Homo sapiens: one gene and its partner. The protein of the gene in region 2 binds, or shares a complex with, the protein of the main gene of each other region. Each region holds a gene or a part of one and is shown on either strand. Other genes may lie near its edges. The genes, in order: STRN3 and MOB4. A codon is read from its position in the direction of its gene.

Region 1 (4,377 bases), on a different chromosome or scaffold from region 2:
TAGGCACCCGCCACCACGCCCGGCTAATTTTGTGTGTGTGTGTTTTTAGTAGAGACGGGGTTTCATCGTGTTAGCCAGGATGGTCTTGATCTCCTGACCTCATGATCCACCCACCTCGGCCTCCCAAAGTGCTGGGATTATAGGCCTGAGCCACCGCGCCCGGCCAAAAACCGCAATTACTTTTGCACCAACTAACCTAAATATTCAATGTAGTTTATTCCTTGCTGAATTTTTTTGTGGGAACAGGTATGGCAAATAGAACAACACTGCCATTAATTGAAATTCAGATTTAATAATGTAACAGGATGTCTAAGCAAATTACTTAAAACTGCACCTGTGCATTTCTGGGGGTTATTTTGAATTGCATAATTTAATGCAAGACTTTTTCTTAATCTTCAAGTGGGGTGAAATACTTAGACATTATTAATAGTGTTAGTGATCTACTCTTATTAGAATATCAATAAGTAGGACAAAGTTTGAAAGAACAGCATAAAAATGAAGGACTCACTAAGAAATCTCCATTTCCTAGTTTAATTATGGAGAATAAAGTATTGCACTTTATTATTCAACACAAAATGATGTAGCCAACAGTAACATACAGGTACACAATTTAATATTTATTATATGCATTTTATATACATTATTTTTCAACAGCTGTATGTTTGCTATGTGGTACAATCTTAAAAATTTGCTGATTCATAGTTTGTAAAACAAAAACCTTACAAAACTCATCAAAACTCGCAAACTGATCAGAAAAGTTTCTCGGAAGACTAGAAAAAATACTTTATTGTCTTAATCATGCATTACACAAACAAAATCTTTAGTTACACCATAAAATTAAGCACATCTAAAAAAATAAAACAGGGATAACTAGTCAAAACACAGCAGATTTCTGTATCCTGATTCAACTATTTTTGTATCCTATTTGTAATGCAAATAAAACTTTACTCCAAATATTTTTAAACAAGTTAGTTTTGTTTGGAATCATGGTAAACCAAGATATATATCTTAGGGGGAACCACCTTGGTTTGTAATTTAAACTATAAAATACTCCATTTTTAGTCTATTTTAGACTATTCAAAGAGTTCCAAAATAGATATACAGGTTCCTTTAGCACATTAATAAAAGGATATAAAGACCAACAAAAAGTGAAATAAATAATAGGCCATTAGCAAGATGGATAATCCTTGATAAATAAACTTGTAAATACAGTAAGATGTACAAAATATCACATAGTGATAGGATGCCAAGATTAGTTTTTTTCTTTAAGAGTTCATTTGGAGTACTAAACCCCACTGTTTCATTTTAATACACTTAATAGTCCTTGGTTTATGAAGACATTTATGTGATGATGAAAGTTATTTAGCATCTTTATGGAAGGACTTAGCTGAGCTGTATTAGGCAAAAGAAGGAAAGAAAGTGGTTACAGGGCAACGGGTCAGTGAGATCTCTGTGTTTTAGGGTTGTATAATGCAGAAAAACTTCAATACAATCTTGAGCACTGTTGTGACAGGCTAAATATATAAAAAGACTTATAAAAACTAGAATTTTATCCAAACATTTTGTGCAACTAATGCTAAAATATTTTAAGTTAAATTTTCTTTTTCTTTTTTTTTTTTTTTAAAGCAAAATAAGTTTAAAAGGGAATCTGTGGCATTCAACCGATAAACAGAAGATCACTAAGAGATGAAAAAAAGCTACTCTTGGAGCTCACTTCCCCCAACAAGAGCACCACATTCCTAACCCCTAAGGCAGCACACAGAGTCCAAAAAAAAAAAAAAAAAAAAAAAAAAGAAGAAGAAGAAGAGAAAAAAAAAAACTTTTTTGAAAGATCAGACTCCACATTGGCTTAAAGACACCTAAAAACAGATATACGCTCAGTTCACATCCAGTACAGGCCACAAATACTGGAGTCCTTTTTTCTTTGTCCCACAAAATACAGTAATTACAGTTAACTTAATGAGCTTGACATTAAGATGTGATTTCCACCAATTTGTGCCTGCCCCAGATAGCCTTCACCAGGCAGATCACATGTAGTGTCATATCAGTAACCTTTCTGATGGCAGTGATGCAGACCCTCTTTCTGTCCAAGCAAATCTTGTTACGATGCAAGTTTTTGTTGATTCATACAAATACTTTGGCAAGAGCATCAGCTCCTGCACTAGCTATATATGCTTTTGACGAGTGGAAAGCAACATCATAAATTGATTCATCCAATTTCTTTCTGTGAGCTGTTATTTCTTGCACACATGTCTTGCTGTCTAAATTCCATAATCTGATGGAACAGTCATGGCCTGTAAAAGAACAAATAAAATTTGTTACTGAGTAACAATCTTTTATAAAGTTTGTGGGCAGTACAGGACTTTAAGACTTACTTCCAGACATCAAATAGATTCCATTAGGATCTACTGCTAGACTTGTAACAGCATCCAAGTGAGCTACCATAGAATGGATCATTTTACCTAAACAAAACATAACAGAGAACTGATTAAGTTTTCACAAATACTAACTCGAGACAACAGAAACTACAATATAGCATCAACATAAAACAATCATTATAGCAACTTTTTTATTGTGGTAAAATATACACAACATAAAATTTACCACTGTAAACATCTGAGTACACAATCCTGTGTCTTTTAGAACATTCACAATGTTACACAACCATCACCATTCTCTAGAGTTCCGAACATTTTCATCACTGGAAAAGGAAACCCCATACCCAATTAAGCAGTCACTCCTATTTGCCCCTCCAACCCCTGACCACTAATCGACTCTTTCTATAGACTGGCCTATTCTGGATACTTCGTATAAGTGAACTCATACAATACGTGGCTTTTTGTGTCTGGCTTCTTTCACTTAATATAATGTTTTAAGGGTACATCCACCACTACGGTAATGTTTTCAAGAGAATTTTAATTCAAATGCATAACTTTCTCTAATAATTACTCCTAAAAAAGACATCTGTGTAACATGTATCTGACAATATCTGATAGACACTGTAAAGCAATGACAATAGGATTGCATCAAAGGCTCAAGATCGTGTAAACTGGAATTAAATAAGCCAAGTGTGGTGAGGTGTGCCTGTAGTTCCAAGCTACTCAGGAGGCTGAGGTTGTGGAATCACTTGAACCCAGGAGTTCAAGGCTGCAGTGCACTATGACTGTGCCTGTGAGTGGCCACTGTACTCTAGCTAGCCTGGGCAACATAGTGAAATGCTGTCAAGAAAGGAAAGGCAAGGAAAATGGGAAGGAAAGAGAAAAGAGAAGAAAGAAAAGAAAGGGAAGGGGAGGGGAGGGGAGGGGAGGGAAGAAGGAAGGAAAAGTGTCAGTGAAAGACCTTAAGACTATTTTATATACTGGGCTAACAATAAATAAATCACCAGAAAATATGTTTCTACCTAAACATTCCATTATCAAGTTCAGTTCACTTATCCTTTGAAATATAATCATTTTACATACTCTAAAAAAGAAAGGAGTAAACAAATTACTCTAGATTTCCCCAGATATTAACAAAAACACTGCTCTGGAAAATGTGACTTAATGAGTATCTTCAGTGAAGATTTGGCAAGCAAATGGAATTCAACAGCAAGTAGAATTTAAAAGACAAGTTGTGAACACAAAGTTGTATTGCACAAATACTTTGGGGCAAGGGCATCCTGCAATGGTAATATATGCTTTGGATGGATAGAAAGCATTATAAACTGATTCACTAGGCAGGCAATAAAATATAAATACTGATACTTTTATAAGTTACTCTCCTTTCACTCAGCAATGAGTCTTTATTACTCAAATGCCTGGGATGTCCCTAATGAAAGATAGAGGCTTTTTCCAAAATTCTAGTTATAATCATTAGCCATGCCTCTGGTCCCATGATGATACTCTACACTAGGATATGAAAGAGGTCTAGTTTTGTTATTTGTGATGGGGCTATAGCTGTTGACCTGAATACAAAACCACAACATAATAAAATGTGTAAAAATACACTCCAAAAAACCTATAAAAAGTAATATAGTAGGCCAGCTGTGGGGGATCATGCCTGTAATCCCAGCACTTTGGGAGGCTGAAGCGGGCAGATCACCTGAGGGCAGGAGTTCAAGACCAGCCTGGCCAACATGGGGAAACCTTGCCTCTACTAAAAATACAAAAATTAGCTGGGTGTGGTGGTTAGCACCTGTAATCCCAGCTACTAGGGAGGCTGAGACAGGAGAATCGCTTGAACCCGGGAGGTGGAGGCTGCAGTGAGCTGAGATCGTGCCACTGCACTTCAGCCTGGGTGACAGAGTGAGACTCCGTCTCAAAAAAGAAGAAAAGTCCTATCACTTTCCAGCACTATTAAACACTTATCAGTTGAAGACAAAATTTAAAAAAATTAAAG
Region 2 (7,301 bases):
AGGAGCCTGAGGCAGGAGAATCACTTGAACCCAGGAGGCAGAGGTTGCAATGAGCCGAGACTGCGCCACTATACTCCAGCCTGAGTGACAGAACAAGACTCCGCCTAAAAAAAAAAAAGTAGCAGAAAAGTCATACAAATGAAGAGTAAGGCTCCACAATGAACCTATTATTAGATAGGTAATCTAACCCTCTAGAGGATTCACTTGGTAGCTTTCCGGTTTCATAGTGTACTCTATACTAATAATGCATATTTTTTCAGGAAAACAGATTTGAATGTTCTTATCATCTCAAATAAACTGCTAAGCATATTGCACAAATACGTTTTTTTTTTTTTTTGAGACGGAGTCTTACTCTGTCGCCCAGGCTGGAGTGCAGTGGTGCAATCTCGGCTCACTGCAACCTCCACCTCCCAGGTTCAAGCTATTCTTCTGCCTCAGCCTCCCATGTAGATGGGATTACAGGCATGCATCACCACACCTGGCTAATTTTTGTATTTTTTTAGTAGAGATGGGGTTTCACCATGTTGGCCAGGCTGGTCTTGAACTCCTGGCCTCAAATGATCTGCCCACCTTGGCCTCCAAAGGGCTGGGATTACAGACGTGAGCCACTACATCTGGTCCATATGTATTGTCTGTTAACAATGAGATGCTTGAAGAAATAAAAATCAACTACTTTTACTAAAATATTCGCATAGCATGGAAGAACTACACAAAGAAACCTTTAGCACATTCAACAAGGATTCACAAAATAAAGTATATACAATTTAAAATTTAGCTGCTCAAAAAAGATGTCATCATATAGACAGTAGGGCAAAGTACTCACATAAAAAACTTAGTTCTACTATTACAGTGAATTTGACATCAACCAATAAATGTGTTTATAATCGTAACACAGTCCTTACTAACAATGTAATCAAGGATTTTTTTTTTTTGAGACGGAGTTTTTGAGACGGAGTTTTGCTCGTTACCCAGGCTGGAGTGCAATGGCACGATCTCAGCTCACCGCAACCTCCACCTCCCGGGTTCAAGCGATTCTCCTGCCTCAGCCTCACGAGTAGCACCACGCCCGGCTAATTTTTGTATTTTTAGTAGAGACAGGGTTTCTCCATGTTGGTCAGGCTGGTCTCGAACTCCTGACCTCAGGTGATCTGTCTGCCTTGGCTTCCCAAAGTGCTGGGATTACAGGCGTGAGCCCCTGTGCCTGACCAAGGATTTCTAATTGTATTCTGATAGTAAAAGTTGTTAAGTCATCAAGAATTTAACTGAGAAACTGTTCTAGAAATCCAAATTTGACATCTCAAGTCAGAGAAAAGGAAATGTATACACACAAAAGAAGGGTTACTTATGGGAACATAAATAGTTAAAAGTTAGCTACTTTCCCAGATGTGATAGGAGAAAAAGAATGAATTGACTATACGATCTTTTGGAAAGAAAAGCCTAAGTTTACCTTCGGATATACATAGGGTAATTCAAACAAAAAGTGGAGCCTAACTTCCTTATCACACAGAACTGTCTTGTTCCCCTCTTAGAACACTTACTTTTATAAATCAATGGTTTGCCAGGCTCATTAATTTTTTAGTAGTATTTATGTATATATAAGTACATTTTCAAAATTCTGAAAACAGTATTAAGGAAAAACAGGAACTGTTTCACTTAGGTCTTACCTAGTATAGTAGTGAATCAACTTCACAATTAGTAAGATTATCAACATGAATACAAAAGCAAGACTACAAACTGATTATTTTCTTTTGGAGATGTTTTATGATCAATTCCAAACATACAGTACAGGGAAGGTGAAATGAGTAAGAAAAAAAAATCATATTTAAGTCCCCGTTAACACTAAGCCATATTATTCAAAATGTGTTTCAAAATACTCAGCCAGATCACCAAATCTCAGTCACTACCTTAGTATAAATATTCACTAAGAAAATAGTCAAGCAACAGAAATCCATTGTGAGACACCATCTAGAGAGAACAGCTACACTGCTATATATAATTTATTAACTTAGTAGTTTAGTTTCTCAATATTTAGCAAGTTTAAAAATTACCATTACCATTGGTTTATAGTGCCATTAATATAAATCCATAATTTCAAAGTCATCATTCCTTTCACTGTGAACTAAGACTTCTTAAAAGATAGTTGTGGGTTGGGGAACAGTAATGACTGTAGCTGATGGGCAGTGTTCAAAGCCAAAAAGACTGGCAAGCTTGGAAAGGCATACACTATACATACACACACTCTCAGTATACTACTGTTCCCCTTATTTTTGCTGTACATTCTTGTCTGAAAAGATGGTATAAATTATTCCCTTAAATTTGAAAAAACAATTAAGATGAATACATTTTCATCTTCAAAATTATCCTTCTAAATAAAAAAGTTCCTCATGTTTGTTAAATCTGTTCAAAAGTTGGATTTAAATACTTTCTTCACAACATGTACAATGTTTTCACCCTTACTGCCTCATTACAATCAGTTTGGCAATAAGACCTCCAGTGCTTTATCAAAAATGGCATTCAATAGATTATAAGATTGTTAAATCTGCATTTCAATCATTCTTACCACAATGAATTATAACAAAGTCCAAAAAAATGTATGACTATTCATCAACACCCTTGGAACCTATGAATTATTGCAAATAATCTCACACGTGCATGTAATCCAAACATAAACTTCGTGGGAGAGGGGGTGTAAAATAAATACTATGGTATTTCTTCAATTCTATTTAATGCTGCCTAGCTGGTTAAATGAAAGATTAATATATTACTAACAGGAAGAGTCAAACTATTTTAAGGACTGTTTTCTAAGTAGAACAATTTTGCAAAACAAAGATAAGCAAGAGCCTATGCAAATACATTTTCTTGTAGTGTAATGTAATTGCTAATATGAGGTATAATCTGTAAGCAATTAATACAAATATAAATAGGTATAAGCCACCACTAACTCAGTCTGGTGAAAAGCTTCTCAGCTAAAGTAGTTTGAAGATAAGGTTAAGGGAAATGAGAAGGGGTGGACAGGGCAGGTTTCCAGTGGGAAAATAATTTATGTGCCTTACCATTGTGATCATCCTGTATGTACCAGTCCGTTGTTGCAGAACGGTAAATCCTTTCCAAGTATGTTATACTTTATGTAGCACAGTAAAATTATTTAAGTATTACTAATGCTTCATTTGCATTTGTATTTAGATATACACATAATTATATATGCATATCAAAAACTATAAACAGAATTTTAAAACACTTTTATCTCAATTGGGGAAAGTTAACAGGTAAGACAAAACTACGTACTACAGAATTTTTTAGGATATCTAAACTCAAGGTAAAACCAATAGAAAACATTTCTACCTCTTTAGTAAATGGCTTGTGTGAAACCTCAAGCTCTCCCTCATTTTTTTTACAGATGGGTTTGTCTGATGAGGATTGTGATCCAATGATTGTTTAGCAGCAATTTTACCAAACTGTAAATTCTTTTATTAACAGGCATTATAAACAGATAATACTAATCTTATTTAAAAACCATGAGTGCCACACTGGTGAATATACAGCTTATGAATAACTTAAAAAGTATTTCCCATTTTAAAAGGCAAACCCAGCATACAAAAACCTATACTAAACAAAGAAGCTATAATATGGATACATGATTGATGTGTCTAAAATGATATATACAGTACATAATGTTAATTATATGATCAGTACATTTTTCCTATGATTCCCTTCATGCTTCACTTTCCCCAGAAACTGAATTCTGTACTTCCTCTTCTAAAATTGGTACAATCAGGTTATCCTTGGACATCAAATTGTATTTCATCACAAACTTAGTAAACCGATGACACAAAAATGTTTCATTCTGTAGAGAGGAAGACAAAAATGTTATTTTAATTCACTATCCCAAACTAAAAGACTAGAAATAACATCAATATATATTACTGTTACACTGATAAGAATGCATCAAGATAATCAGTGAAATATACTTACTTCATATTCATCAAATATCTGCCGATGATGAAAATAAGCATGTGAAAATATTCTGTAAATCCTACGGCATACTGATCCTAGTTTCGCTACAGATGATTCCTTTATGCTAACCCTAGAAGTAGAAAAGAAACCATAGATTCTTAGAACTGGATAGAATCTTAGGAACAATATAGTCCAATTTCTCGCTTACAAGTGTAGAAACTGACACCTAGGGAAAATAAGCGACTACTCCAAGGTCACACTGCGAGTAAATGCCTGGAGCCCCTGCTCCTCAGTTCTAGGCCAGTGTTCTTTCTACCTAATCACAGGGCCTAACTTAAATTCAGCATTATAGTTTTGAAACTTTGTAAAAGTTTAATGCAGTTAGAATAAATCCCTGACATTTCAAAATTTACTATAACATCTATTTCCAACATTAATACATTGTCCACTAGAGGCGATTGAAAACTCCTGAAAGGAATTATTGTTTTATTTTACAGAACTAGGTTATTCTTTCCTTTTCTTTTCTTTTTTTTTTTTTTTTTTTTAGAAATTAAGGCCAGGTGTGGTGGCTCACGCCTGTAATCCCAGCACTTTGGGAGGCCAAGGCAGGTGGATCATCTGAGGTCAGGAGTTCGAAACCAGCCTGGCCAACATGGTGAAACCCCGTCTCTACTAGAAAATACAAAAATCAGCCAGGCGTGGTGGCAGGCACTTGTAATCCCAGCTACTCATGAGGCTGAGGCAGGAGAAACGCTTGAACCCAGGAGGCAGAGGTTGCAGTGAGCTGAGATTGCGCCACTGCACTCCAGCCTGGTTGAGCAAGACTCCATATAGAAAAAGAAAAACAGAGAGAGAGAAATTAAAATTGTTTTTTTAAAATTGAAATTTTCTGCATATTTCTGATATCCTTTTTTAAAATATGTATACACAGAATATTAAGGTCAAAAGTCAGTATTTTTCTTAACATATTTTATATGAGCTCTTTGAAGCTAATCATATTTGGTGGGGGAAATCTCCAAATCTATCCACCTGGTAACAAATACCTTAATAAAATAAAAGGCAGTCACAAACTTCACCGATAATATATTACATGTACAGACTTCTCAGATCTTAAAAATCAATGAGCAAGGATAAGGAATCCTTCAAAAACAAATAAGAAAGTCTGCTCTTTTTTTTTTGAGACAGTTTCGCTCTTGTTGCCCAGGCCGGAGTGCAATGGCGCGATCTCGGCTCACCACAACCTCTGCCTCCTGGGTTCAAGCGATTCTCCTGCCTCAGCCTCCCAAGTGGCTGGGATTACAGGTACTCGTCACCATGCCCAGATCATTTTGTATTTTTAGTAGAGAAGGAGTTTCTACATGTTGTTCAGGCTGGTCTCGAACTCCCAATCTCAGGTGATCCGCACGCCTCGGCCTCCCAAAGTGCTGGGATTACATCCGTGAGCCACTGCGCCCAGCCAGAAAGTCTGCTCTTTAGGCATACTACATAAAGGGAGGTCGAGTCTAACTAACATAGAGATTCAAGTGAGCAAGTATATACATATCCCAACTCTAAAGCATGAGAGGGAGAGCTCTGCAGAATGACATATATGAACAGGTACTAGCCTTAGACTGAACTGGCCTTGAGCTTTGACAGCCAAGTTCTGCTGTTTAACCACAGTCCTAATTTCAAAACTTGAATAAACAAGCCAAAATACAACAGCTAAAAAAAAAAATACAAAAATGCATTAACGAGCAACCTAATTTTACTTTTAAAATACTAATCTTTTATTTTATTATTATTTATACTTTAAGTTTTAGGGTACATGTGCACAACGTGCAGGTTTGTAACATATGTATACATGTGCCATGTTGGTGTGCTGCACCCATTAACTCATCATTTAGCATTAGGTATAGCTCCTAATACTATCCCTCCCCCCTCCCCCCTAAAATACCAATCTTATAAATTAACTCTAAAATGTTTAACACTATGTTTAAAAGTTTCGATTACCTGCTGGGAAAATATTTATTGCTATTCAGAAGACATGCAGCACCATCAAGTGTGTGTCTAGTATAGTCTATAGCAGGACACTACAAAAGAAAGAATATAGAAATGCATCAACAAAGAGCTCTCTCTTAAGTTAGATATATTCATTATATGGGTATACCTTATTCCAAAGACATGAGCATGTTCTAAGAAAAAAGTTCCTTACAATTTCCGAATGCTTGTAAAATATAATGTTATATTAATAAGTAAGGTTTATTATCCCCTTGAACCATATCACAATTCTAGATGATACATAAACCAGTCTCCCATTTTTATTCCCAACATCGTACCTACAAGAAAACAACAATTACAGACAAGAAGAATCCTGATTTATCTCTGGTATCTCCAGGGATGCCTTCTTATATCCTAAACAATATTCCTTATTATGTCCCTAGCACTCTATTATCAATCTAGCAGCCCTCTAAAGAACTTTCTCCCAGATCACCTTTGAATTTTAACATGAAATATCAAAGTTTCCTTATATTTTAATAAATCTGACTTATTCTGTTCCATTTATCAGAAACAATGAAAAAAAGAAACAATGAAACACTGTCTCATGGCAACTCAGTAAATTTATTAAAGGAAAAATAAAACTGCAAAGTAATTGTCCTCATCCAGTCCTCCTGAGGGCAGACAGGGAGCAACATCAAGGGGAAAGCAGTCTAGAAACAAACCAGGGAGTCAACCAGAAGGAAAAAACAACTAGAGGAAGGAGTAACAATGACTGTAGCTCAAAGACTCTACCCAGTAATTAGGTTATTTTTCAAGTTTGAGACTGAAGCTGTCACTTAGAAATACGGTTTAGTAACTACTAAATATGGCTTAGTGCCGTGGCACTAAAAAATTACCTAATAAAAAAGAAGTATTTTTCTAACAATATATCCACAGGAATTTCTGATTAGTGGACTCCTTGCCAAAAACAGTACCATGAGCAATATTTATTGAAAAAAACTACCTTTCTCCAGATATATGACCACAGATGAGTTGGTCAAAAGCAAATATCCCAAGTAACTGTATTTCTCATATTTGTCATTTGGGTATACCATGAGACAGTTTTACAACCTTTAAACCAGAATCATCAACAGAAATACAGCAGACCCTTGAACAACACAGGTTTGAACTGCGTAAATCCACTTATGCTCAGATTTTCCCAGCAACGGCAAGACCAACCCCACTTCTTTCTCTTTCTCCTCAGCCTACTCAACGACATGAACACAACAAGGAAGACCTTTACAATGATCCACTTAATGAATGGCAAATATATTTTCTCTTCCTTACGATTTTCTTTAAAAAAAAGAAAGAAAGAAGGTCTCACTATGTTG

What was found.
Region 1: the proteins of MOB4 (region 2) and STRN3 are in contact, whole or in part, in a cryo-EM structure (PDB 7K36), measured with the Homo sapiens proteins. Residues at the interface, in NP_056202.2 of Homo sapiens: Arg12, Asn13, Arg14, Pro15, Gly16, Thr17, Lys18, Phe22, Trp25, Thr36, Gln40, Gln41, Tyr71, Arg75, Cys78, Leu79, Asn82, Val86, Lys87, Gln89, Ala112, His113, Ile122 (codon at 6,014), Asp123 (codon at 6,011), Arg126 (codon at 6,002), His127 (codon at 5,999), Leu129 (codon at 5,993), Asp130 (codon at 5,990), Gly131 (codon at 5,987), Ala133 (codon at 5,981); in NP_001077362.1 of Homo sapiens: Arg477, Ser478, His479, Phe480, Asp481, Asp501, His502, Thr503, Glu524, Tyr527, Thr528, Arg530, Ala531, Ile533, Ile553, Pro569, Tyr570, Asp571, Thr572, Tyr573, Asp587, Ala588, Trp590, Ala606, Asn652, His683, Asn685, Arg765 (codon at 2,226), Lys766 (codon at 2,223), Lys767 (codon at 2,220).

Annotation. Positions count from the first base shown.
Region 1 is NC_000014.9:30,893,287-30,897,663, forward strand, and holds the end of STRN3 (striatin-3), read right to left. Parts: intron 2,463-4,377; coding exon 2,376-2,462; intron 2,330-2,375; exon of another isoform or gene 2,295-2,329; coding exon 2,125-2,294; 3' UTR 518-2,124; downstream 1-517. UniProt on the Homo sapiens protein: Calmodulin-binding scaffolding protein which is the center of the striatin-interacting phosphatase and kinase (STRIPAK) complexes.
Region 2 is NC_000002.12:197,547,058-197,554,358, reverse strand, and holds the end of MOB4 (MOB-like protein phocein), read right to left. Parts: intron 6,024-7,301; coding exon 5,944-6,023; intron 4,085-5,943; coding exon 3,973-4,084; intron 3,845-3,972; coding exon 3,713-3,844; 3' UTR 660-3,712; downstream 1-659. Other genes in the region: HSPE1-MOB4 protein, read right to left, coding at 3,713-3,844, 3,973-4,084, 5,944-6,023.